Linked DNA regions of Homo sapiens: region 1 is linked to region 2. Evidence: fine-mapped expression QTL. A gene starts in region 2. The other region holds a variant in brackets. All regions are shown on one strand. Distances are from middle to middle.

Evidence for each region. PIP is the estimated chance that this variant, and not a neighbour inherited with it, causes the effect.
Region 1: its variant is fine-mapped to the expression of GCLM in whole blood (TOPMed, PIP above 0.99).

Annotation. Positions count from the first base shown.
Region 1 is chr1:94,032,859-94,043,462 of GRCh38, forward strand. ABCA4 (ATP binding cassette subfamily A member 4) reads right to left here. Exons shown (of 50, transcript NM_000350.3): 21 at 10,478-10,604; 22 at 9,903-10,040; 23 at 8,351-8,544; 24 at 7,185-7,269; 25 at 4,287-4,492; 26 at 3,882-3,930. Among named protein-coding and RNA genes, the nearest start is that of ABCA4, 83 kb to the right of the region's middle. RefSeq lists an enhancer at 3,774-4,973. The variant G/A (reference allele first, on the strand shown) is at 4,749.
Region 2 is chr1:93,905,592-93,922,142 of GRCh38, forward strand. It overlaps GCLM (glutamate-cysteine ligase modifier subunit), which reads right to left and starts at 3,839. Exons shown (of 7, transcript NM_002061.4): 1 at 3,447-3,839. The coding sequence starts at 3,572. It overlaps LOC124904221 (a long non-coding RNA gene), which reads left to right and starts at 4,001. Exons shown (of 2, transcript XR_007066230.1): 1 at 4,001-4,563; 2 at 13,738-14,007. It also overlaps the pseudogene CHCHD2P5. RefSeq lists silencers at 3,253-3,302, 3,353-3,712, 3,923-4,162 and an enhancer at 4,203-4,362.

The sequences.
Region 1 (10,604 bases), 120 kb after region 2:
AGAGGAAGTGGGAAGCGAGACTTTAGCCTTTTGTGTATTATATGAATTTTTAAACAACAAAATACATTCACCTATTACCTGTGTACTTAAACAAATGAAAAATCAGAGTCGATGTGGTTCTTTCTGAATTCTTAGAGGATACTGAGAAGTGGTAGAAAAAGTAATGAACTAAGAGTTAGGGGACTGAGGTTTGAATATGGATTCTTACAAGATACATAAATTTGGGGAAGTGACTCAATCTGCCTAAATCTGAGTTTTCTCAGACTTCTTATCTGTAAAATGAAGGCATGGTGGCTCATGCCTGTAATCCCAGCACTTTGGGAGGCCAAGCCAGGAGGATTGATTGACCCCAGGAGTTTCAGATCAGCCTGTACAACATAGGGAGACCCTGTCTCTACAAACAACTAGAAAAGAAATTAGCCAGGCACGGTGGCGTGTGCCTGTAGTCCCAGCTACTTGGGAGGCTGAGGTGGGAGGACCCCTTGGGCCCAGGAGGTCAAGGCTGCAGTGAGCTATGATCGAGCCGCTGTATTCCAGCCTGGGTGACAGAGCAAAACTCTATCTCAAAAAAAAAAAAAAGAAAAAAAAAAAGAACATTTCACAGGATTGGTTTGGAAATTTAAATGAGATAACACATGGGAGCATGCTCTAGAAACCATTGCAAGTTGTCGGTTATGTTGAAGCTACAGTTTATAGTCACTGATTAATGCTCATTTGCTGAACAACTATTGCTGGACATGGAGAGCCTAGAGGACTGTTGGTTGGTCCCCAGCTGCTTTCTTAACCCTCCTCAAGTCCCCCAGGACAAGGACAGTTGTAAAGGGAATTGGATCAGCTCAGTCATCCTTTCAACTACATTTACCTATGACGTGCCAGGCCTGGGATGCGAAGGCTGGGTGGCAGCCCCAGCCCTGGCACCTGCACTCAGAGGGGCGAAGTTCTGCAGGTTCTCGGTGCCAGAGCCCCAGTTCTGCAGGCTCCTTCTCCTGATCCGGGCTCAGATTTGATGTCTTCTATGGCTGGCCCTCCCTCTGGGAGGATCCCTACTGCCCCTCCTCTTTGCTGGCTGATATCATCTCAAACCTCTGAGCTTTGATCTCTCCCTGAAGGCTCCATCCTGACTGGAGCCCACTGACCTGGCCAGAGCTAAGGGTTCCAGGCCTATTCAGAATCGCCAGTTTGTCCCTAGCTATCTGCTGCTTTCTAGTTACTGACTATGAGTCACCCCTTCAGAAGTGGCATTGACCCTTGTTGGAGGCTGCACAAATGTTTCTTATGATTAGGCATAATTGAAATCTGTCAGTAACAACATGAACCCGTGATCATTTAAGCAGCTGACCCAATCATTACCTCCTGCTCCTTCCTCCTGTTACCCAATAAATAATGAAGGGCTGCAGAAGCTTAGGGAGCTGCCTTTACTCATTAGAAGCAGGGAGCCCTTTTCTTCTTCTCTTCTTCTCTCTTCTTCTTCCCGATGCTAGCCTTTCCTTAAAACAGTTACTTTGGTTTTTTTGTTATCATTTCCATGTTGATCCCTTCGTTCAGTCTTGTAATGATGTTCTCAGGCAGTAACAGTAGTAACTGCTGTAATGATGGTTTCACGTAGTAACCGTGGCAGTCAGCCACAGACCCTCTCCATGCCACGCATTGTGTGACCCCAATGCACAGCTACAGGTTCATTTAAACACTGGAGACAAGATCAGAAAATGTCATCCTCTGAGACTGAGCTAACTCAAAACAAATGTACTTAGCCATCTGAAAAGTGGCTGAGAGTGTGGCATTGAGCATCCTAGATTACAGAGCTAAGACCAGAGAGTGAGACCCAGTGGCCTGGGTGACTTTAGGCAAACCCTCCAACCTCTGTGAGCTCAGTTCCCCCCAGATGGGGCAGACCCCTGCCCTGCCTGCTTCATAAGATTACAGTGATAATCAAATAAGACAATGGATGTTAAGTGCTTTGAGGTAAGAGATGGTTTGTAAACATTTAGTTTAGAGTTGCTAAGTCTTAATCAGTGATCGTATACTGTGTTATAAGTCGGCAAGCATTAACTCACTTAATTCTCTCAACAATGCTACAGGTAGATGCTATTATTATCTCCATTTTGCAGATGGGGAAACAGGTACAAAGAGGCTATGTACTTACCCAAAGCCAGTTAGTTTGCAAATTATGAAGCTCAGGTTTGATATTTGGTCGGCCTCACTCCAGAGGCTACACTCTTACCCACTCCCCTTGACTGTATCTTTGGAACATCCTGTTCTATGCCTATGCTGACTAAACAGTCCTCTGATGTGTAATTTATTCTCCTGAGAGGGCCTATTTATCAAGAAGGAATATTCTGCACAGGTAAAAGGCCCTAACTCTTGAATCCAGCAAAGCTTCTGATATAAATTAGCATATTTTCATTCTGGTCTTGGTTAATATGAGTCTTTGACATTGGGTGAGCTGAGATTATTCAATTTCTGTGTCAGCAGAGCTTGAAAGAAACTTGGGTTCTGTGGTGAATTGCTGCTGTCCCCTGGAGAGGACTGCTTCCTGCCCCACACCCACTGTGCCAGGACGACTACATCTTTTGGTCACCATGCGATGTACTGGGATGGGCTGAAGCATATCTGGGCTGGTATATGTGTCCATTGGTAGTTCTAGGCATAGTAGATAGATGTTTGGGATCATTATGAAGAAAGATGAAAACCAAGTTATCTTAAGAGCTGATTCCAGAATCCACATAGAAAGGAAACACTCCAACAGGAAAACACTGAAATATGCCACACTGGAAAGAAGGAGGTAACTGGTGGTTTAGGAGGTGTTAGGAGCCCAGGGGCAGCAAAGGAGAATCGCTGCAAAGCTTTGCCTGTACCAGGAGAGGATTTTACAGTGTGGGTGGACACCTCGTGTTCTATCAGAAGTGGTTTCTGTTTGTGTGGCAGGTAACCCTTCCACACATCTATCTCCCCACCCTCCACCCTCTGCTGTAAACTCTGCTACACTCACACATGCTTTGTGTGGCTGTGGGTTTGATAAAAGTTCATGGAAGGAGCTAGTTGGTGCCCAGGCTGACACATGTAGAAGAGAGACTTCTAGAATCCACAGGAATTTTGGTCCCCATGTTTTCAAAGCCCATAGACCACTAAATAAGGGTTCAAAATGATTTTATGTTGATCTCAAAGGGGCCAGGAGACTGACGTCTGAGTTGTATTTGATAAACATTAAGGACTCTGCCAGCTGTCACTCATGCAGACAGAGATGGATCAGAGGCCTGGTGGAGATGACAGGAGGAGATGAGGATGATGACATGGCAGGCCGAGAGACTGGGGATACAGCATGAGGAGCTGAGGGATGAAGCTACCAACCTGACCTCCGTAAGAATCCTCATTCATCCAAAGTGTCCCCATCTAGACCTAACTCAGTCTGTTATTCCTTTGTCACTCAAAGCCATCTAGGATGCAAAATGCCTACTACTGGGGAGTCAGATACTATGGAGGAGTATTTGCCTGCTTTGTTGTTTCATGACTTTTTCCTTAGACTTTTTTTTTTTTTTGAGATGGATTTTGCTCTTGTCGCTCAGGCTGCAGTGCAGTGGCACAATCTCTGCTCACTGCAACCTCTGCCTCCCAGGTTCAAGTGATTCTCCTGCCTCAGCCTCCCGAGTAGCTGGAATTACAGGTGCGCGCCACCACACCTAGCTAATTTTTGTATTTTTAGTACAGATGGGGTTTCACCATGTTGGCCAGGCTGGTCTCGAACTCAGGTGGTCCATCTGCCTTGGCCTCCCAAATTGCTGGGATTACAGGCATGAGCCACTGTGCCCAGCCCCTTAGACTTTCGAGATGGAACTTGGGAGGGAGGCAAGGAAGGGAACAAGCCACTGGCTCCAGCACCATACCCGCAAACAGAGGTCCTGAATCAGAATCCTCCGTGACCTTCAGAAAAATCTGTCAAGAAGAAAAAAAGAGAGAATTTTGTTTAGTCATTCTTATTCTCAGAAAAATCTAACCCAAGCTCTGTTTTGTTGGGTATTGCTTCATAATGGGAAGAAAATCCATTACGACTCTATCTGAGAACATCATCTTCTATAAATACAAAAACGTAAGCACACAGTAACCACAAGTACATAAAATTTGTATGCATGCAGAGATGGGGGAACTATGCCAAAAATAAAGATAGTTGCTATGCTTGGGTGGGGAACGATGGCTTTTTGCTTTTACAAAACTTTGCTCTAATGTTAGACTTTTTCAAAGAACCGCCACTTCTGGCACTTGACAGAAACCAGCTGGAATCTCTACTTTACCTCTTCCAGGGGAGTGTCAGAAATTCCAAAACTGCTGAGACCAAGGTCAGCCAGCGTCTCCTCCAGCTCTCTGAAAAGGCTGGCATATGCTCTGTGCTTGAAGTTCTTATTTGGAAGAAGGAAGATAAGTTCTTGACCAATGCACTCCACCAGCTTTGCCTCTGGAACATGGTGGAGAACTACATCCATCAGCTCATTTACATCCCCTAGGACAAGAAAAAAGACTGATGCCAGCTCTGTTTTCCAGAAACTGGAAGACTGTGAGGTTACCCAGATTTCCTACTTCTCTCCACTTCCCCTTTGAAGAAGAGGTATTTTGTATCTCGGCAGTGACTCTTTCAGAGGACTGATGCTCCATCAAGTCTGCTTTTAGCTTAGTTGGCCCTGAGATCATCATTGAGAGGCAGAGGGAAACGGAAGCAAAGTCCTCCCGACTAGCTAGCTGTGCAACCTGGGGGCGGA[G/A]GTTGGTGGGGGGGTCATGCAACTTTCCTGTGCCAGTTCCTCCTCTGTTCAACGAAATGCTCTGTCCCCTCAAACTATGTTATGTTGGGTGGGTCACATTAGACTTTCCTCATCTGTGAAAAGGGGAAAATACTGGTATCCACTTCATTGTTGTTTTTGAGGACTGGATGAGTCAAACTACACAAAGCAGTTAGAGAAATACCTGGCACATAGGTGAGTGCTGGCTGCTATTATTATCCTTTACATCATCTCGGTAAGAAATCTCTTACTCATGGTTGTTTTTCATTCTCATTCACTGAAAACTTGAGGGCTAAGTCAAAGTTGTTTTCATTTTTCTGGTCTGTCACCAGCTATGGGGGACTTGCCCAAGACACAAACCTGGAACCGGTGACCAAGCTGAGTGAGAAGTACCTTCCCTAAATCACACACACATGCCTACTCTAACTTCTCAGAAGATTGCACAGTTTCTCTTGGGATTGCACCTGCCTCCACAAACAAAACTGAATCCTCAGGTCACAGGAAATGCAGAGGGGGGGTTGAGAAGCCATGGAGAGAGGCTGGGGGAGAGGGTAGGATATGCGGTGCGTATCATAGACTGTGAACAAGTGTCAGGTATCAACTGTTTATCTGACACATGTATACAGTCAGAATTGAATTTTATGTACAAATGTGTATTACTTTAAAATTAAAAATCTAACTGTGAAAACCTCACTTGCATGCACTTGAAGAGAGAGTTCTCTCGCACATTGTCTTGAGAGGCAGGTCAAAGGGAGAGGGATTCCAGGACTCAAAACATGACTCTTCAGAAAGCAGCTCTCAGAGTTGTGGACACCCAGTAGGTTCTTTTCTTTTTTTGTTGTTTAAAAAATGATCCATATGAAGGGATTTCATGGTTTTCAACCAAAATCCTTCTGCCTAGCCGGATTGGAAGTCTTGCTTTATGTCAAATCTGCAAGTTGGACTTGATTGTCTTTAGCTCTGAGATGACTTCATACGGAGGCTGGAGAGTCCTTTACGTTAAGGAAGCAGCTCTGCCCTAATAGCTCTCCAGGGGTCATATTCATTGTTCTTTTAGGAAGGAAATTGAACCCAAAGCTGCTGGATTCCCAGGAATTGTGTCTTAGGCATGTGTCAGCCTTTCCAGAAGTAGCTCTGTAGGTCAGCAGGGCTTTGGGCATCTGGGAGGGAGGTCTGTGAGTGTGTGTGTGGTATGTGGGTGTGTTTAAGTGAAAAGACTTTCAAGGAGCTAACTGGGGATTCAAATGATTTTCCCTTTCTTATTTGGGGCATAACTATTTAGTGCATTTCCCACCATTCACAGCATCCCGATTCTATACAAAGAAAACCTTTATTTAGAAATAAAGTAATTTAAAAAAAAGAATCATTCAGCCATGCAGGCCCTGTTTCCAATCTGATTTTGGCAAATCACAGTAACTTAACATATTAGTATCAATTTAAAACAAATATAAACTTCTTGACCAAGGTTCAGAGAGCAGGGAGATAGGTACCCACAGCAAGGCAGGCTAGGAGAAAGACCCAGAGATGTCATCCTAAAAAGATGTTTTCTGTTCATCACAGGGTCTCTCAGTGTAAAGAGAGGGCAGGTGCATGAACAGTGATGATGCCTCTCTGAGCATGTTCCCTCCAGTTGTAATGATCAGACAACGCAAATATTGCCCGGTTCTCTTGCTTCACCAGATTTCAGTTAGTAAATTCTTAACATTTGAAAAAGTTTGTGCTAAATAGAAAAATATGCCTTTTCTTTGATAAGCAGATACTTTCCCCATTCATTAACCTGCATCAGTACGTAAGTTTAGTTTTGCTCCTGTGTGGGAATACGCTTCTCACACATTCTCTCACATAGAGAGGGGATAGCCTCTCCACTGCAGCTCCTTGGAGATGGGGGCACCCCTGAGAGCTTCAGTGCATCCTAATTAAAGGGAGAATCACTGGGAAATTGGGAAGCTGAGGGGAGAATCAGGAGTATAACAGGGGTGTATGCTATTTCCAGACTTGCCATCCACATGTGCAATCTCTGACTCCACGAATTCACTGGAAGAGCCGTGCATCACCATGCTTCCACTAGAGGGCGCCACGGCACACATGTAGAAGAAGCTCTCCCCAGACACTAAGGAATGTGGCCTGGAGCCAGGGCAGGGGGACCCCAGGAATGATGGCTTACTAAGGGTAAGAGCACAGAGTGTATTCCTCATTAAAGGGAGAGGGCCTTTAGGTGCATGACTTTTAAAATCCCTTTGGGAATGAAGGAAGAAGGAAGAGGAGAAAGAAGCTCAAAGCAAAAGAACAACTGTGTGACCTGCAGAAGTACCCAGTGTTCTCTTTGCTCCCATTAAAATGCATCACAACAGGACACACCCAGCAATACTGGGAGATGGCTGCCAGACGGAACCCAAGTATGGCCCGTCCAGTCCTTACCATCCAGGACTTGTTCTGGAGTTAGGTCATCGACGTGGGCTGGACACGTGGTGGAGAAACCCTTAGACGAGCAGCTGCAGGTCCCCTGCAACAGATGGATGGGATGACTGACAAGATGCACATCCCTTCCATGACAGCCTCTCCCTGATGCCAGCTGCTGTCACCGCCCGCTTTATTTATTTCTCACTGCCAAGTGTAGTCAACACATTTTTTTCTTCACTGTTTAATCTGTTAATTCATCTGAGCATTTTGAGGGTGTAGTCGCTTGATTTTATCCTAGAGAGTGTGTGAGTCACACACAGAGAGGAGCAGAACCTCCAAGGGTCCCTTTGGCTTGTCATCAATTATGTGGCAGCTGTAGGTTCTGCCTGTGGGAGACATTCTGTGCCTCCCTCCCCGTGGATGGACATAGGAAACCCCAGCGGCAGCCAGACACTTAAACCAGAGGCATAAATAATGCTGCCATATCATAATCATGACCATTTGAATGTGAGCAATGCCTGTTCTTAAGAAGCCCAGAGCACATTTATAATACTTTATCTCACTTATCTTCACATCCCTAAGAAATAGAAGCAGAGGTCATTAGCTTCATGTTCCATGTGAAGAAGAAAAAAATACTAAAAAAAAGGAGGAATTAAATAATTTGCCTAGGATGACACAGTTTGTTCACTTCGCAGCACAGACATAAAACTGGGTCTCCTGATGTGCTGAAGTGGTCTCTGCTGGTTGGTACTTTTTGCCTTCATCATTTTTATGTTATAGCACCCAAGGAGGCCTCTTCTTAGTTTTCACTTACCACTGAAATTCAGGTTTAATTAGGGAATATTAATGTTGAAATGAAGCTCAACCAATTGCTCTTAAAACAGCCTAACCTTACAGAATAAGACACTCACTTCTATGTTGCACCAAACCGCACCAAACTGGTGTGTAATCTGGCATGTAATACTTGCAGACCATTTAAAGCTAGTTGTTTCATTTTGGCTAAAGCATCTCTGTAGGAGGAGGCTTCAGAATGTGTTCATCGAAATCTTCTGCAAATGGTCCCAGAACAAAGACACTGATTCTGGTGGCGAGAGCCTGTGTGAGTAGCCATGTCTGGAGTGGCAGCCCCGTGCTGTGTGCTCCTTCTCACCCAGGCCAGGGTCCTTCCCTGGGCAGACACCTACCTCACTGCCTTTCCTTTGGCTCTGGATGTTTTTCATCTTGCGCACCAAGGTTAAGTACAAGCCTGTGCCAAAGCAGTTCTTCAGGAAGAGTGGGGTGCCTGAGCAGTAGAGCCTTCCCTGGGCAATGATGGCAATGCGGTCCCCAAGGAGGTCGGCCTCGTCCATGTGGTGAGTGGACATGATGATGGTTCTGCCTGCAAGGTAGGGGCCAGGGCAATCACCAGGCCTGCCCTGGGTTGGGCATTGTTGGTAAAGGGTGTACAGCAATTTCCTGGCTATATAGTTGCAAAAATCAGGAGTTAACTAAAAAAAAAAACCCAAGGGAACTAATTCAGCAGCAAATTCCAGCATATTAGGACAATAATAACTAACATTTCATAGCTTCCTACATACTGTAAAGCATTGCCACACACAGTGTCTCTGTATCCAGCATAGGATCTGATTCAAATAAATCTCTATATTAGGGGCTCATGTATTATGGTCAGCATCTAGGGAGTTTCATATGTACATTTTCTGGATCATTAAGCTCTGGATTTATACTCTTCATAAAGAACACACACGTGCATACTCTCACTAACTGGAGATGTCATTAACAGAAAACAGCAGGCCGGGCACGGTGGCTCATGCCTGTAATCCCAGCACTTTGGGAGGACAAGGCGGGAGGATCACCTGAGGTCGGGAGATCGAGACCATCCTGGCTAACACGGTGAAACCCCGTCTCTACTAAAAATACAAAAACAATTAGCTAGGCGTGGTGGCGGGCACCTGTAGTCCCAGCTACTCAGGAGGCTGAGGCAGGAGAATGGCTCGAACCCAGGAGGCGGAGCTTGCAGTGAGTGGAGATTGCGCCACTGCACTCCAGCCTGCGCGACAGAGCGAGATTCTGTCTCAAAAAAAAAAAAAAAAAAAAAAGAAAAGAAAGAAAGAAAATAGCAATGAGGATTTCAGGATGACAAACCCTCAGAGAAAGGCACGGGGCAACGCTGTGTGAGTAGAGCAAGGGGGAAAGCTCTGGCTTGACCACGGGGTTGAACCGTGCTGTTACCTCTATGGGCACTCAGCTCTGCTTGCTGTCTCTTCTGATCTGAGCCCCTTGTCTGAGAGGTGCCATGACAGAGGAGCCACTTCCATCTGTGGCCACCCTCTGGAGCACTGAATGCCCAGCAGGTCACCCTCACACTGGTCCTGAGTGGTCATCTGACAGCTATGGAGCTTCTAGGTATGTTTGCAGGTGACCTGGGTCCCCATGGTCAGAGAAGACATTCACCTAGAGTAGCATCCATTATTCCAGACAGAAGGGCTGCAGGTCAAGAGAATTTTCTAAAATATTTTGGGAAGTAGGTTGCATCATCAGTGATTCTCTGTTTATATTTGTAAAAACCTCAGGAGGCTTTAGCTGGAACTTAGATTCACCAAGTCACTGATAAACCCCCTTCTGAGTGTAGTCATTGTGGTTCCTGTACTCAGCTACAAAATGGCAGGTGAGAGAGTGGGGACCACAGCTAGGGCTGCAGTGAGAGCCCAGCCCAGGAGACTGAGCAGCAGCTGTTACCTGAGCGATACTTCAGGAGCAGATCCCAGATTGAGCGTCTCGAGTAAGGGTCCACCCCAGAGGTGGGTTCGTCCAGAATCACCACCTTGGCATCTCCCACAAAGGCAATGGCAACCGACAGCTTTCTCTGCATGCCACCTGGAGGCACAAGAAGGACGGGAGAGTTAAGGGGCTGTGGAGGGTGAGGAAGAGAAAGGCCCAGGGCAAGTGGCATTGTGGGGGTACCTTAACCCAGCAGTGGTTTGGTGCTGCCTCTTAGATGTTTATAGCGTTCAAAGCCCTAATACTGTTCAGGCTTTGTAAATGCAGAAAGGGCAACCCTCACCTCCTCGGATCAGACCCTTTGAAGACTGTTCAAGCACATCAATCTCAGGACAAATAAAACCCAGGCTGCTGTGAGACAGTGCTCTGCAGGGAAAATGATCTGGGGGCTGCTCTTAGATTTTTGGTGTAACTTCACAGAGGTGTTCCCACCCTTAGAAGCTCTCCTGCTCCAAGCCTCCCCTGCCTCCTGGGTGCACTGGGGAGCCATGGATTTGCCATCTGTGGCCCTGTCTCCATCCAGCTCTGAGCACCTGATAGGTCCTGAGCCTCTTCATTCCGCTTGTGGTGGAGGCCTGTGTCCTCCAACATGGCTTCCATCTCCAGCTGGGCCTCCTCCTGGGACTTTCCTTTCAGCTGGGCATAGAACAGCATGTGCTC
Region 2 (16,551 bases):
TTTTCTTAGATAAACAAAAAAAAATTTATACAAATATTATAGTATGTTGTAAATTAATTCAAACATACTTTATTAAAGTGTATTTCAGACTTATTTGATAGTAGTCCAAAGTAAGACATACATTCACATAGTGAGCAAAGACCTATATACATATAATGGAACAAAACAGTCATAAAGCGGTATTTATGCTCACAACATGCCAGGCACTCTAATGGCTTCCAATATATTAATTAGAAAAAATATACTGGTCCATGACTCACTGAACTGATTTATGACCACTAATGGGCCAAACCTGGCAATCTGAAATCACTGCCTTATTAGATAACCAAGGACACAGTGTTTTGCATTCTTCTGTGGGCAATCAATGAAAACACAAATGAGTAACTAGAGGCAAGCCCCTGAATTGCAAAAGCACTTTCCTAATAGAAACAGCAGACACTAAACTTCTGAACTATCTGAACTATGACTGCTTATGATAAAAACTGATACAATCACTTTACTACGTATATCTTAGTACACATGATTACAAGAGATAACTGGTTTATCAATTTAAGGGCACAGAACTACCTATGTTAAGATTTACAATCCATAATAATAATTTACATGCTAGTCACAACAATTCACTTGAATTCAAATTATAAGGTCTAGATCTTTATGTAAAGCATATTTATAATCAAATTTAAGTCAGTGGATGAAAAGGAGTTGATAATCATTCCAGATACAATTATAAGTCATAGTATTTTCTTAAAAATTAGTAAAAATGGAAGGAGCAGAACCAACTAGAGGTTAAAAATTCTATCGGAAGTGCTTTGGCTCAAATCGTGGGATAATTCTAAGAAATTTCCCTCTGGAAGGATGGCTCATTTGCACACTTGAGGCTTTCCTGATGAATTCCTCAATTCAGGAAGGTAAGTCTATTTTTATAGTATTCACCCTCTTCTTGAAACCATTTCTTTAATTAATCTTGGATTCTGCAAAATGTCAGGACAAATAATAAAACAGTCTAATGTTACAATTACGTAGGAAATTCATTGACTTTATCACAAGCCTAATTATTTTTAATCTTGTAAATTACATGTTTGCTATATTGACTAAACATTAACCTTGTACTTGGGTTAATGTTTGTCATTAACATTAATGTTTATGTTTGTTCTCCGCTCTCTTCATTCTTATAATACACACCCAATATCACTGAGTATAAGCATCACCACAACTTAGCCTACCATTAGATCTGGAGTTGTATAAGAATTTTTTAAATACCATGATTCAACCGGTCAAACACCCTTACAACAAAGAACTGGGCAAAACAGTCCTATAATGGTCCACTTACAAACTATTTGATTTCATAAAATTCCAGTGAGACAAAAAATCTGGGCAGAGGTCATAACATTTTTTAAAAAATTAGAACTAGAAGAGACCTTGTAAGAAATTTAACTGAACTCTTGACCCAACACGTACATTTTCTCAAAAATAAGTGATTTGTTCAGTTTACTTAATTTCTTCAGTGAAGCGGAACTGTTCCAAGTAGTACATCCCAATTTGGAGCTCTGGGTGTTACAAAGTTCTTTTACATAGAAACAAAATGTGCCTCCCCTTTTGCTCTTACCAAGCAGTCATAGTTTCCCTACAGTATGATGCCATTCCTTCAAGTTTTCCTGAAATGTTTTCTAGTTTCTTTAGTTTTATCCTACTGTTATGAAGCACCCTAAATAAAACACTAGAAACCAGAATTAGTCCTTTGAACAATGTTTTACAAACTGTGGTGTGTGACTCTGAGCATCAAGAAATCAACATTTTAAAAATTAAAATAAAAGAAAAAATCAGAATATACGGTATAAGGGCTAATATCTTTTTGTGAAACCTGTTTCAGATATACTGATTATACAACTATTAACTGGATTGCAAAGTAAAATGTACTTCTTACTGTGTTTGCAGTCAGAAACTCTTTTGAGTCACTACTTTAGAGTATGCTATTGTGAGATAGGTAAAATTTCACCCAATAATATCAATATACGTGCAAAATTCTGTATTGAACTACCACCAACAGTACTGGAAGAAATTAAGAGTCTATGTACCGAATACAGAAATATTTATCTGTGGGAGAAACAGCCAAAGTAGGTGGTTTAAATAAAACAAAACATACACACTGAGCTGGAACGTGAACACAGAATATGGTACAGACTCAGATTCCTACTAAAGTTACAAGCAAGAGTTCTCATCTCTTGATGGGCACTGACCCCAACAACAGGCCTGGGCACAGGTCCAGCACTTAACTCAGAGGGATGCCGTGTGCTGCTGCATGGTCTGTTACCAACATCTCATAGAAGAGAGCAGAAACCACTTAGGAACACAGCTGATTTAGGAAGGTTTTTCTAAACACACATAGTTTAGGAAGGTTTTTCTCTTAATTAAGATTTATCTTTCTGATGGAACCAGATGACAGGGAGATAGATGCCTGCATGGTGAGCGTTTTCATATATTACCTCTTAATTCTCACAACAACCTGATGAGGAAGGTGTTATTATCCAACTTTAAAGTAATTTTCCAAAGTCATATAGCTCCTAAATCTAAAGATTTTGTTATTTTTTAAATACTAAAATTGTCCCATACCACCAATATGCACAATGTGCAGTGGATGACTATCCGCTCAGAAATGGCCAACAAATAGGTAACAAGTTTGTAATTCCAGATTAATCTCTGTCACCTCCAACTAGTGACTAGTCTTTTTATTTTCCAGTTTTTACAAAACTTTAATTTTTGAATTGATAGATTATATTTGTACATATTTATGGGGCACATGTGATATTCTGTTACATGCATAGAATGTACAATGATATTGTTACATGCATAGAATGTGTACTGATAAAGCATACATAGACGCACAGATAAGTGCATAAAATGTGTAATGACTAAAGTCAGGGTATTTAGGGTATTCCAAAGCCAAAATTGAGTGCTTACTCATTTGCCTCACTGCAATAGAGAGTCTAATGTCAACATTCTAAAAGTTAGGTGTACTATGAATACTACTTCATCTGAATGCACCAAAGGATAATCTCCGAAAATATTCCTTTACCTGGACAGGGTGGGGGAAGGAAGCGAGAGATGTGGAGAGAGACGGAGCGACGTCCTGGCCCTCTGTGACCTCCGTGCCAGGAAGAGGGACCCAGGATGTTTGAGAGTTTTGCTACCAGCCTTAAGCACCGAGAGAGGTGTCACTCAGTGCGCAGCTGCACCGGCTAAGTTTTTTAGACGCGTTGCCCTCGGCAGCGGGTTTGGACCCAAGGTCGCGTCGACACTGGCCTCAGCATCTGACCGCGGGCGGAGCCCAGGTGCGCGCGAGGCCCTGCCACCCTCCCTCGCCCGCGGGCGCTTCTCCCTTGCCGGAACCGCCCGGCCCCGCCCGAGGCCTGCCCCGGGAGCCCCGCGGCGAGTGTCGCCACGCTCACCTCCTCGCTGTGCGTGGACGGGCACTTCTTCCGCAGGCGGCCCCAGTTCAGCAGGTTCCCCGTCTGCAGGTGCAGGGTGCGGGCCCGCGCCAGGAGCGCCTTGGCCGCGCGGCTGTCGGTGCCCATGGCAGCGGCCGCCCAGGGGCCGCGCAGCGAAGGGGCTGCGGGCGGGCGGGCAGGCAGGCGGCCGCCCCACAGGACGCGGTGCCCGAGGCCCGAGAGAGACCCGAGAGGGAGCGCGAGGCTGCCGGCGCCGCGCGGCTGGAGCCTGGTCTGCGCTCGGGCCCGAGGGAGGCCGGACGGCGGCTGGGCGGCGGCGGGAAAGGAAGGCACCGGTGGCTGCGGCTCCGGCTCCGGCTACTGCGGCCGCAGCGGGAGAGCTGATTCCAAACTGAGGGAGCTGTTTCCTGGAAGACAATGACTAAGCAGAAATCGTAGCCGAGAAAGTGCTTCGTAACCGTTACTCATCCCGCGGCGGGGCAGGGGCGGGGCGCGAATGGGCTGCGGGACGCCGGCCCGCAAGTGACTGGCCCTTGGCCTGCGGCGGGCGTGGCGACGGGTGGTGCGCGGCGGGCGCGCGGGTCGAGAGAGCGTGGCGGCGCGGCCCGGAGCGCAGCGCGCGGCAGGGCTCCCCCTGGCGGTCAGAGGACAGCGCGAGGCAGACACCGCCTCCGCCTGGTGAGGTAGACACCGCCTCCGCCTGGTGAGGTCTCCCGGCGTTCAGGTCGCGGCTCCGCCCACGGCCGCCCCAGGGTGGGCTTCCTACACGTCTCTTTAAAGGGCAGCCTGAGCGGCCACCGGGACTCGGAAATGCTACGTAGTTTTCGTTCTCAGAAGCAGCTGTTTATGCGCAAGCGCCCCCTTCTTCTTTTCGCTTTGCTACCTTCAAGGACCTTCTCCCAAACTGCTAATTTTTCTTCATCCGTTAAAGGTCTATTGATTCACATTATTTGCTGGCAGTGTGTGAAGTCAACGAACAAGACTGAGTCTTTGCCCTTGAGACGCGTACACTCTACCCAGAGACAAGTTCTAAGCACAGGAAACAAGTAATTTTATAAGAACATCATAGGGCAGTTATTCTCCAGATGAATTCAGATTAAAGAGGACACTTGAGCCGGTGAGATCACAGAAAGCTTTTATCACCCACCCCTTTAGAGGTGGTCGAGATTATTTACCCCTATTAAATTTCACGTGTGGTGGTGGACTCGGTATAAACATCAAATTGAACATGTATTGAGCTTTCCTCAACAATCTTTCACATTCGTTGAGGTGAATCAGATTATTAAAGGCAAAATGAGATTCTCATTATAAGCGGGGACAATATAGCTATTGAAAAGAGAGATGAACCAGTTGGTAAAATGGTAAGAATTAGGGGAGGGATGGGAAAAAAGATCTTTCTAGGAAGTTAGAAATTGAGCCTGATGTTGAGTAAATATTTGTTGGCTGAATGAATGATGGTAAGAGTTCATTGAACGAGCTTGCGCTGCTTTTTTTTTTTTTTTTTGGATATTGATTTTTTATTATAGTGAAAGAGCTACCCACAAGCACCACCACTACTTAAACACATTTTGATGCACTGTAACATACAATTAACATTTGTTGTAAATAATTCCAACATATACAAAAATAGCAAGAATACTATAATGAAACCCGATATAACTATCTTCTGAACTCAAGATTGAATAAGATTTGTCTATACTTTTTGTTTTATAATACTTTAAGTTCTAGGGTACATGTGCACAATGTGCAGGTTTGTTACATATGTATACAAGTGCCATGTTGGTTTGCTGCACCCATTAATTCGTTATTTACATTAGGTATTTCTCCTAATGCTATCCCTCCGCCAACCCCCCACCCCATGACAGGCCCCAGTGTGTGATGTTTCCCACCCTGTGTCCAAGTGTTCTCATGGTTCAATTCCCACCTATGAGTGAGAACATGCAGCGTTTGGTTTTCTGTCCTTGCGACAATTTGCTCAGAATGATGGTTTCCAGCTTCATCCATTCCCTACAAAGGACATGAACTCATCCTTTTTGATGGCTGCATAGTATTCCATGGTGTGTATGTGCCACATTTTCTTAATCCAGTCTATCATTGATGGACATTTGGGTTGGTTCCAAGTCTTTGCTATTGTGAATAGTGCCAAAATAAACATACCTGTGCATGTGTCTTTATAGTAGCATGATTTATAATCCTTTGGGTATATACCCAGTAATGAGATCGCTAGGTCAAATGGTATTTCTAGTTCTAGGCCCTTGAGGAGTCACCACACTGTCTTCCACAATGTTGAACTAGTTTACACTACCACTGACAGTGTAAAAGTGTTCCTAGTTCTCCACATCCTCTCCAGCACCTGTTGTTTCCTGACTTTTTAATGATTGCCATTCTAACTGGTGTGAGATGGTATCTCATTATGGTTTTGATTTGCATTTCTCTGATGACCAGTGATGATAAGCATTTTTTCATGTGTCTGTTGGCTGCATAAATGTCTTCTTTTGAAAAGTGTCTGTTCATATACTTTGCCCACTTTTTGATGGGGTTGTTTGATTTTTTCTTGTAAATTTAAGTTCTTTGTAGATTCTGGATATTAGCCCTTTGTCAGATGGGTAGATTGCAAAAATTTTCTCCCATTCTGTAGGTTGCCTGTTCACTCTGATGGTAGTTTCTTTTGCTGTGCAGAAGCTCTTTAGTTTAATTAGATCCCATTTGTCTATTTTGGCTTTTGTTGCCATTGCTTTTGGTGTTTTAGTCATGAAGTCCTTGCCCATGCCTATGTCCTGAGTGGTATTTCCTAGGTTTTCTTCTAGGGTTTTTATGGTTTTAGGTATAACATTTAAGTCTTTAATCCATCTTGAATTAATTTTTGTATAAGGTGTAAGGAAGGGATCCAGTTTCAGCTTTCTACATATGGCTAGCCAATTTCCCCAGCACCATTTATTAAATAGGGAATCCTTTCCCCATTTCTTGTTTTTGTCAGGTTTGTCAAAGATCAGATGGTTGTAGATGTGTGGTGTTATTTCTGAGGCCTCTATTCTGTTCCATTGGTCTGTATCTCTCTTTTGTACCATGCTGTTTTGGTTACTGTAGCCTTGTAGTATGGTTTGAAGTCAGGTAGCATGATGCCTCCAGCTTTGTTCTTTTTGCTTAGGATTGTCTTGGCAATGCAGGCTCTTTTTTGGTTCCATATGAACTTTAAAGTAGTTTTTTCCCATTCTGTGAAGAAAGTCATTGGTAGCTTGATGGGGATGGCATTGAATCTATAAATTACCTTGGGCAGTATGGCCATTTTCACACTATTGTTTCTTCCTATCCATGAGCATGGAATGTTCTTCCGTTTGTTTGTGTCCTCTTTTATTTTGTTGAGCAGTGGTTTGTAGTTCTCCTTGAAGAGGTCCGTCTCATCCCTTGTAAGATGGATTCCTAGGTATTTTATTCTTTTCAAAGCAATTGTGAATGGCAGTTCTCTCATGATTTGGCTCTCTGTTTGTCTGTTATTGGTGTAGAGGAATGCTTGTGATTTTTGCACATTGAATTTGTATCCTGAGACTTTGCTGAAGTTGCTTATCAGCTTAAGGAGATTTTGGGCTGAGATGATGGGGTTTTCTAAATATACAATCATGTCATCTGCAAACAGGGACAATTTGACTTCCTCTTTTCCTATCTGAATACCCTTTATTTCTTTCTCTTGCCTGATTGCCCTGGCCAGAACTTCCAACACTATGTGGAATAGGAGTGTTGAGAGAGGGCATCCCTGTCTTGTGCCAGTTTTCAAAGGGAATGCTTCCAGTTTTTGCCCATTCAGTATGATATTGGCTGTGGGTTTGTCATAAATAGCTCTTATTATTTTGAGATACATTCCACGAATACCGAGTTTATTGAGAGTTTTTAGCATGAAGGGCTGTTGAATTTTGTCAAAGGCCTTTTCTGCATCTATTGAGATAATCATGTGGTTTTTGTCTTTCGTTCTGTTTATGTGATGGATTACTTTTATTGATTTGCGTATGTTGAACCAGCCTTGCATCCCAGGGATGAAGCCAACTTGATCGTGGTGGATAAGCTTTTTGATGTGCTACTGGATTCAGTTTGCCAGTATTTTATTGAGGATTTTCACATTGATGTTCATCAGGGATATTGGTATAAAATTCTCTTTTTTGTGTGTGTCTTTGCCAGGCTTTGGTATTAGGATGATGCTGGCTTCATAAAATGAGTTAGGAAGGATTCCCTCTTTTTCTATTGATTGGAATAGTTTCAGAAGGAATGGTACCAGCTCCTCTTTGTACCTCTGGTAGAATTTGGCTGTGAATCTGTCTGGTCCTGGACTTTTTTTGGTTGGTAGGCTATTAATTATTGCCTCAATTTCAGAACCTGTTATTGGTCTATTCAGGTGTTTATAGTATTCTCTGATGGTAGTTTGTATTTTCTGTGGGATCAGTGGTGATATCCCCTTTATCATTTTTTATTGCATCTATTTTATTCTTCTCTCTTTTCTTCTTTATTAGTCTTGCTAGTAGTCTATTTTGTTGATCTTTTCAGAAAACCGGCTCCTGGATTCATTGACTTTTTGAAGAGTTTTTTGTGTCTCTATCTCCTTCAGTCCTGCTCTGATCTGTGTTATTTCTTGTCTTCTGCTGTCTTTTGAATTTGTTTGCTCTTGTTTTTCTAGTTCTTTTAATTGTGATGTTAGGGCATCAATTTTAGATCTTTCCTGCTTTCTCTTGTGGGCATTTAGTGCTATAAATTTCCCTCTACACGCTGCTTTAAATGTGTCCCAGAGATTCTGGTACATTGTGTCTTTGTTCTCATTGGTTTCAAAGAACAACTTTATTTCTGCCTTCATTTCCTCACTTACCCAGTAGTCATTCGGAGCAGGTTGTTCAGTTTCCATGTAGTTGTGCAGTTTTGAGTGAGTTTCTTAATCCTGAGTTCTAATTTGATTGCACTGTGGTCTGAGATAGAGTTTGTTGTGATTTCTGTTCTTTTACATTTGCTGAGGAGTGTTTTACTTCCAATTACGTCGTCAGTTTAAGAATAAGTGTGATGTGCTGAGAAGAATGTATATTCTGTTGATTTGGGGTGGAGAGTCCTGTAGATGTCTATTAGGTCCACTTGGTCCAGAGCTGAGTTCAATTCCTGGATATCCTTGTTAATTTTTTGTCTCGTTGATCCAATATTGACAGTCGGGTGTTAAAGTCTCCCATTGTTATTGTGTGGGAGTCTAAGTCTCTTTGTATTGGCGCTCCTGTATTGGGTGCATATATATTTAGAATAGTTAGCTCTTCTTGTTGAATTGATCCCTTTACCACTATGTAATGGCCTTCTTTGTCTCTTTTGATCTTTGTTGGTTTAAAGTCTGTTTTATCAGAGACTAGGATTGCAACCCCTGCTTTTTTTTGCTTTCCATTTGCTTGGTAGATCTTCCTCCATCCCTTTATTTTGAGCTTATGTGTGTCTGTGCATGAGATGGGTTTCCTGACTACAGCACACTGATGGGTCTTAACTCTTTATCCAATTTGCCAGTCTTTGTCTTTTAATTGGGGCGTTTAGCCCATTCACATTTAAGGTTAATATTGTTATGTGTGAATTTGATCCTGTCATTATGATGTTAGCTGGTTATTTTGCCCGTTAGTTGATGCAGTTTCTTCCTAGCATCGATAGTCTTTACAATTTGGCATGTTTTTGCAGTGGCTGGTACTGATGGTTCCTTTCCATGTTTAGTGCTTCCTTCAGGAGCTCTTGTAAGGTAGGCCTGGGGGTGACAGAATCTCTCAGCATTTGCTTGTCTGTAAAGTATTTTATTTCTCCTTCACTTATGAAGCTTAGTTTGGCTGGATATGAAATTCTGGGTTGAAAATTCTTTTTTTTGAGAATGTTGAATATTGGCCCCCACTCTCTTCTGGCTTGTAGAGTTTCTGCCAAGAGATCTGTTGTTAGTCTGATGGGCTTCCCTTTGTGGGTAACCCAACCTTTCTCTCTTGGCTGCGCTTAAGATTTTTTCCTTCATTTCAACCTTGGTGAATCTAACAATTATGTGTCTTGGGGTTGCTCTTCTCGAGGAGTATCTTTGTGGTGTTCTCTGTATTTCCTGAATTTGAATGTTGGCCTGCCTTGCTAGGTTGGGGAAGTTCTCCTGGATAATATCCTGCAGAGTGTTTTCCAACTTGGTTCCATTCTCCCCGTCACTTTCAGGTACACCAGTCAGACGTAGACGTAGATTTGGTCTTTTCACATAGTCCCATATTTCTTGGAGGCTTTGTTAGTTTCTTTTTACTCTTTTTTCTCTAAACTTCTCTTCTCGCTTCATTTCATTAATTTGATCTTCAATCACTAATACCCTTTCTTCCAGTTGATCAAATCAGCTACTGAAGCTTGTGCATGCATCAGGTAGTTCTTGTGCCATGGTTTTCAGCTCCATCAAGTCATTTAAGTGCTTCTGTACACTGTTTATTCTAGTTAGGCATTCATCTAATCTTTTTTTAAGGTTTTTAGCTTCCTTGCAATGGGTTTGAACATCCTCCTTTAGCTCGGAGAAGTTTGTTATTACCGACCTTCTGAAGCCTATTTCTGTCAACTCATCAAAGTTGTTCTCCATCCAGCTTTGTTCCATTGCTGGCGAGGAGCTGCAATCCTTTGGAGGAGAAGAGGCACTCTGGTTTTTAGAATTCTCAGCTTTTCTGTTCTGGTTTCTCCCCATCTTTGTAGTTTTATCTACCTTTGGTCTTTGATGCTGGCGACCTACAGATTGGGTTTTGGTATAGATGTCCTTTTTGTTGATATTGATGCTATCCCTTTCTGTTCGTTAGTTTTCCTTCTAAGAGTCAGGTCCCTCAGCTGCAGGTCTGTTGGAGTTTGCTGGAGGTCCACTGCAGACCCTGTTTGCCTGGGTATCACCAGCAGAGGCTGCAGAAAAGCAAATATTGCAGAACAGCAAATATTGCTGCCTGATCCTTCCTCTGGAAGCTTCGTCTCAGAGGGGTGCCTGGCTGTATGAGGTGTCAATCAGTCCCCACTGGGAGGTGTCTCCCAGTTAGGCTACATGGGGGTCACAGACCCACTTAAGGAGGCAGTCCGTCCATTCTCAGAGCTCAAACACCATGTTGGGAGAACCACTGTTCTCTTCAGAGCTGTCAGACAGGGACGTTTAAGTCTGCAGAAGTTTCTGCTGCCTTTTGTTCAGCTATGCCTTGCTCCCAGAGGTGGAGTCTACAGAGGCAGGCAGGCCTCCTTGAGCTGTGGTGGGCTCCACCCAGTTGGAGCTTCCAGGCCACTTTGTTTACCTACTCAAGCCTCAGCAATGGCAGACCGCCCCCCGCCCCTGCAACACCCTGCAGCCAGGCTGCCGGCTTTCACTCAGTTAGATCTGGGAGCTGCGGCACTAGCAGTGAGCAAGGCTCTGTGGGCGTGGGACCTGCTGAGCCAGGAGCGGGATATAATCTCCTGGTGTGCCATTTGCTAAGACCATTGGAAAAGTGCATCATTAAGATGGGAGTGTCCCAATTTTCCCAGTACAGTCTGTCACAGCTTCCCTTGGCTAGGAAAGGAAAATCCACTGACCCCTTGTGCTTCCTGGTTGAGGTGATACCCCGCCCTGCTTTGGCTCGCCGTCCTTGGGCTGCACCCACTGTCCAACCAGTCCCAATGAGATGAACCAGGTACCTCAGTTGGAAATGCAGAAATCACCTGTCTTCGGTGTCGATCATGCTGTGAGCTACAGACCTGAGCTGTTCCTATTCAGCCATCTTCGCTTGTGCTGCTTTAATTAATGTGTACATTTGATTCATATGCTGAATTTGCTGTGGCATCATTTCTTGATTGTTTGTATATTATCTGATAGCATGCAATCAATACTTGATTAAAGCTTAGAGTTTACATCTCCTAAACTATTAGACTTGCCTCTTTGCTGGGAACTTATATAACATATTGGCCAAGAATGTTGGTGCTGACATCAACCGGTATTGGCTTACCAACCTTACTTTTACCAGGCACTGGCTCTTTTATCTTACTTACCCAAGTCTCTCTGTATTTCAGTTTCTCTAAACCAGCAAGAGGATAGTTTGAACCATATGAAATTGCTCATAATTGACCTTTTTTTTGTTTGTTTTTTTTGAGACAGAGTCTTGCTCTGTCGCCTAGGCTGGAGTGCAGTGGCGCGATCTTGGCTCACTGCAAGCTCCACCTCCCAGGTTCATGCCATTCTCCTGCCTCAGTCTCCAGAGTAGCTGGGACTACAGGCGCCTGCCACCACGCCTGGCTAATTTTTTTTGTATTTTTAGTAGAGACGGGGTTTCACAGTGTTAGCCAGGATGGTCTCGATCTCCTGACCTCATGATCCGCCCACCTCGGCCTCCCAAAGTGCTGGGATTACAGGCCTGAGCCACCACGTCCGGTGATAATTGACCATTTTTAACCGACAGAAATGGAAAGTCCCATGGTTCCACCAAATAGAATACTTACCACATTGGGCAGGTGTGAGGAGTTAATGATGAAGAGGCATGAAAAGCCCTTAGTAAATGTCCAGTAAGTGAGAGCTCCTATTATTAATGCCCCTACTGTTTCCCCATTACAATGCAGTTCTCACAATATTGGTAAATTTATAACATGAATTCACGGCAGGCATCGTGTTATGTTTTTAAGATTTGCATATGTAAACTCATTTGCTCTTCGCAGCAACTCAGTTAAGTAACTTGTTGAAAATCTCAGTTAGTAATTAGTATTGTGGCCACGATCAAAACCTAGATCCTTCAACTTCAAATTCTTTACTCTTCCATACTATAGATAATTTAAATTCTTGAATGTGCTTATACATGATTTATATGTTTTTAATGCCTGTACGGCTTAAATTTACTACATATTGTACTTAATGATACCCTTGCCATAACACCGCAGTTCTTAGGGAGGGAAATTTAATCTTCTAAACTTATTTTGGGGGAAAAACCAGGGAATGTAAATCAGAAATTGATTATGTAGTCACTTTTAGTAAGTTATTTTTCTCCTGTCTAGAAAAGAGAAATAATATTGATAACATTTCTATCTTTGGGAATATATTTTTGTTTTTAGGTGCTTTAAAGCACTTCTACAAGTGCTGTATAAATACAGTGTCACTAACACTGACTGCTTTTTTTTTTCATGCTTGACATTTATAGGATCTGATATTCAACTGTTTATGTTTTTCTTTAAAAAACCACTCTTCCAGGCCAGGCACCATGGCTCACACCTGTAACCTCAGCATTTTGGGGAGGCTGAGGTGTGAGGATCGCTCGAGTCCAGGAGTTCAAAACCAGCCTGGGCGATAAGAGAGACCCCATCTCTACAAAAAATTTAAACATTAGCCAAATGTTGTGGCACGTGTCTGTCATCCCAGTTATTTGGGAGGCTGAGGTGGGAGGATCACTTGAGCCTGTGAGGCAGAGGTTGTAGTGAGCTGTGATTGTGTCACTGCACTCCATCCTGGGGGACAGAGAAAGACCCTGTCTCAAAAAAATAAAAACAAGACAAACCAGTCTCCTTGTGTGTCCTGTAATACCCTGCATCAGTTTCCCCAATGTATTTGATCACAGAACGCTTTTGAAATTATAATGTACTGTTGGAAGCCCAACAGGAGCTCACAAGCTTTAAGTGTTTAGAACAAAGCAGGCAGCAAAAAAAAGTCTCACAGATTAATTAATTGCTGTAGAAGTGATCACATTTTTATTCATAGTCTTTTTGCTTTATCAAGACAAACAAAATGAATTAAAATTAGTTTTACTTTATTAAGAGACCACCTGGTGCATTTTATTCTTAATAAGGTAAAATGGATTTAAATTCTCAAATTTTAACTCCTGGAATGAGTGTAACTGCTACATTTATGTTGCCATATTCAGAAGCCACTAAATGGATCCTGCCCCATCTAGAGGTGAAGGTTCTTTTTTTTTTTTTTTTTTTTTTCTGAGACAGAGTCTCACTGTGTCGCCCAGGCTGGAATACAGTGGTGCAATCTCGGCTCACTGCAACCTCCGCATCCTGGGTTCAAGCAATTCTCCTGCCTCAGCCTCCCGAGTAGCTGGGACTACAGGCATGCACCACCACGCCTGACTAATTTTTTTGTATTTTTAATAGAGACGGGGTTTCACCATGTTGGCCAGGTTGGTTTTGAACAGCTGACCTCAAGTGATCCGCCCGCTTCAGCCTCCCAAAGTGCTAGGATTATAGGCATGAGCCACCACACCCAGCTGAAGGTTCTATTTTTAAAAGGATTTTTCTGAAACCTAAATCCCTTGAAAATAATACAGCTGTCATGACCTGTTACCATCTTAAGGATTTGGAGGAAGAGAGCCATGGTTTGGAATAGAACATGAACGAGTGCAGAGGAGTGGAAATTACCACAGTTTGTTCTGAAGACTGGATACAGCGGCACCTTCCTGGAGCAGTGGTACCCCTTAAAGGTGAAGGGAACGTGGGTGTTGCAACAGAGGACCATTATCAAGAAGACTCTTTTGGGTTTGGTCTGAGAGGCACTGGGAAACCTCTTAAACTTGAGTAAGGTAGAGTCTTGACTCAAAGTAATAAATTGGCAAAAAACTCCACACCCCTATATTTTAAAATGCTATTCATTTACTCAGTAGATATTTCTCCAGTGTCTAATACTTAAGGTACTGAGCTAGGCACTGCAAATTCATAGTGAGCAAACACATTGTTCCTGTTCTTATGTAATTTACAGTCTAGTGGTAGAGAAAGATTTTAATCATATAATTATAGTAAATGTAAAATTATACTCTGGTGGTTATTATGAAAAAGGAGTACAAATATAACAAATCAGCAAGTGGTATGTAAAATTGCAGTGGAGAATGACTCAATGCTAGGAGACCAGTGAGAAAACTCTAGTAATCACCTAGACATAGGTTAGTGAGAACATGACCCACACTGAATGCAGGCTGTGAATATGAATCAAGACAGAGCTCAGGTGCCTTTGTTTTGCCCTAGTTAGTGGGAAGGAGGGAATCAGGTTACCATGGATTTACTTAGACGAAGCAAAATAGTTTCTTTTCTCAATAGGGAGCCATGGGAGAATGTCCCAGTGGGAATATCAGGGTTGGGGTTGAGCAAGAAAATTTGTTAAAATTCTCATATGTTCAAGTACAATAGAAATCATTCCATTGATAATATGAATCCAAAATATCCAATACTGTTATGTAAGATTGCCTGGAGGGCTGCTGTATTTGCATCTGTTTGTCTGTGTCATCATCATCATCTGCTAACTAAAAATGATACAATTCCTACTCCTCATCTGCTGATGGAAGAGGTTGTTGGCAGTAACTAAAATTTGTATAGTGATGAAAAATACAAGTAGATATTTAAAGAGTCAATATTTGGGTCTAAATGTATACATCACATTGAAAATTCTTTCTTTTTTTTTTGAGACAGAGTCTCACTCTGTTGCTCGGTCTAGAGTACAGTGGTGCGATCTCGGCTCACTGCAACCTCCACCTCCCAAGTTTGAGCGATTCTCTTGCCTCAGCCTCCCAAGTAGCTAGGACTACAGGCATGCACCACCATGCCTGGCTAATTTTTGTATCTTTAGTAGAGATGGGGTTTCACCATGTTGGCCAGGCTGGTTTTGAACTCCTGACTTCAGGTGATCCGCCCACCTTGGCCTCCCAAAGTGCTGGGATTACAGGCGTGAGCCACCGTGCCCTGCCCACATTGAAAATTCTATGATTGACCATGTGATGAAGAGTGCTACTAGTACAGATATCATTGAGAAGTAATGTAACTTGGGGATGAGTGTCTTTTTTTTTTTTTTTTTTTTTTTTTTTTAAGAAAATCACGACCAGGTGCAGTGACTCATACATGTAAGTGAGCACTTTGGAAGGCCGAGGCAGGAGGATCACTTGAGCCCAGGAGTTGGAGACCAGCCTGGGCAACATAGTGAGGCCTCCTCTCTACAATTTTTTTTTTTTTTTTAAAGAAAATCACGTTATTCCAACTAACTCCGCAAACAGTAACACCACAATGGCAGGTTTAAGGAGGCCACACAAACATTTGCCCAGCCCGAAATTCTATACCATCTCAGTGAACTTGTATACAGTAAGAATGCTCTTTTCCATTGCAATTCTGAAGCAAGGAAGCTATTAATGAAAGAGAAGTTTAACTGATGGTTTTGCACTTTATACTTTTATTATCAACTATATTTTTATGCTAAATTATCTTGGTGAGGTGAGCTGATTTTTCATTTCTTCAATCTGAACTTTTTGACTAGGCTAATTCACCTGCAAGTCTGCACTGTTTCAACACCTTAGTGAAACCCTCACAGAGCTTTATGTCACCCTGGTTCTGCGCACACTCTAAAAACTGTTTATCTCATAGAAGCAAGGGCGAAACTGCTGCTGCTGTTGCTGCTGCTGTGCCAGCTGGGTTTCTGAGGGCCCTACTTAGAGATGTTAGGCTTTGAGGGCTCAGCATTACTTACTCTTCTGAAGCTCCCAGTGATGGCCTGACCCAGTATGTGCCTGACAGCCTGACAGCCATGCCAGCTGCAGCAGTTGTCATTTGGGTCATCAGACCTGGCTGTGGGGTACAGCAGCAGGTGAGCCAACTGCAGATGATGGGGCTGCTGCTAGTGCTGGCCTGGGTGCACTTCTCATCTGAGGTACCTGCTGGAGACGCCCAACTGGCCCAGGCAACCATGAGGAAGGTGCTTTGACTTCTGCAAGCATCGTAAGTGTGTGTGGTAACTTTACCTCTAGAAGTGTGGACCTCTGTCTGAGTGTCAGTTTTAAGATTTGAATAATCATCCAGGGTGAGTTTGAAATAGTTATTTCTTGGCCTGAATAGATGAATATTAGGATTGGAATTAGACTCATAGCAAAAGCATATGAAATAGTTTTTATGTAGTGAGGATAAGAGGTATCTTAGGAAATGTTAGTAATTAAGATGGTAAGTGAAGTTATGATAGAAGAAGAGAACAAATTTATTGCTTTTATTTGGAGTTACACTCATTTTTTTAGCTCCTAACTCCAGCGGATTATTTCTATGCTTTAAAAGTTGAAAAACAATATTATTCTACATGGAGGCATGAGTTAGTAGTTTTTGCTTACTTTCTCAGTAAATAAGGAGTTTTAGGCTTCTGTTG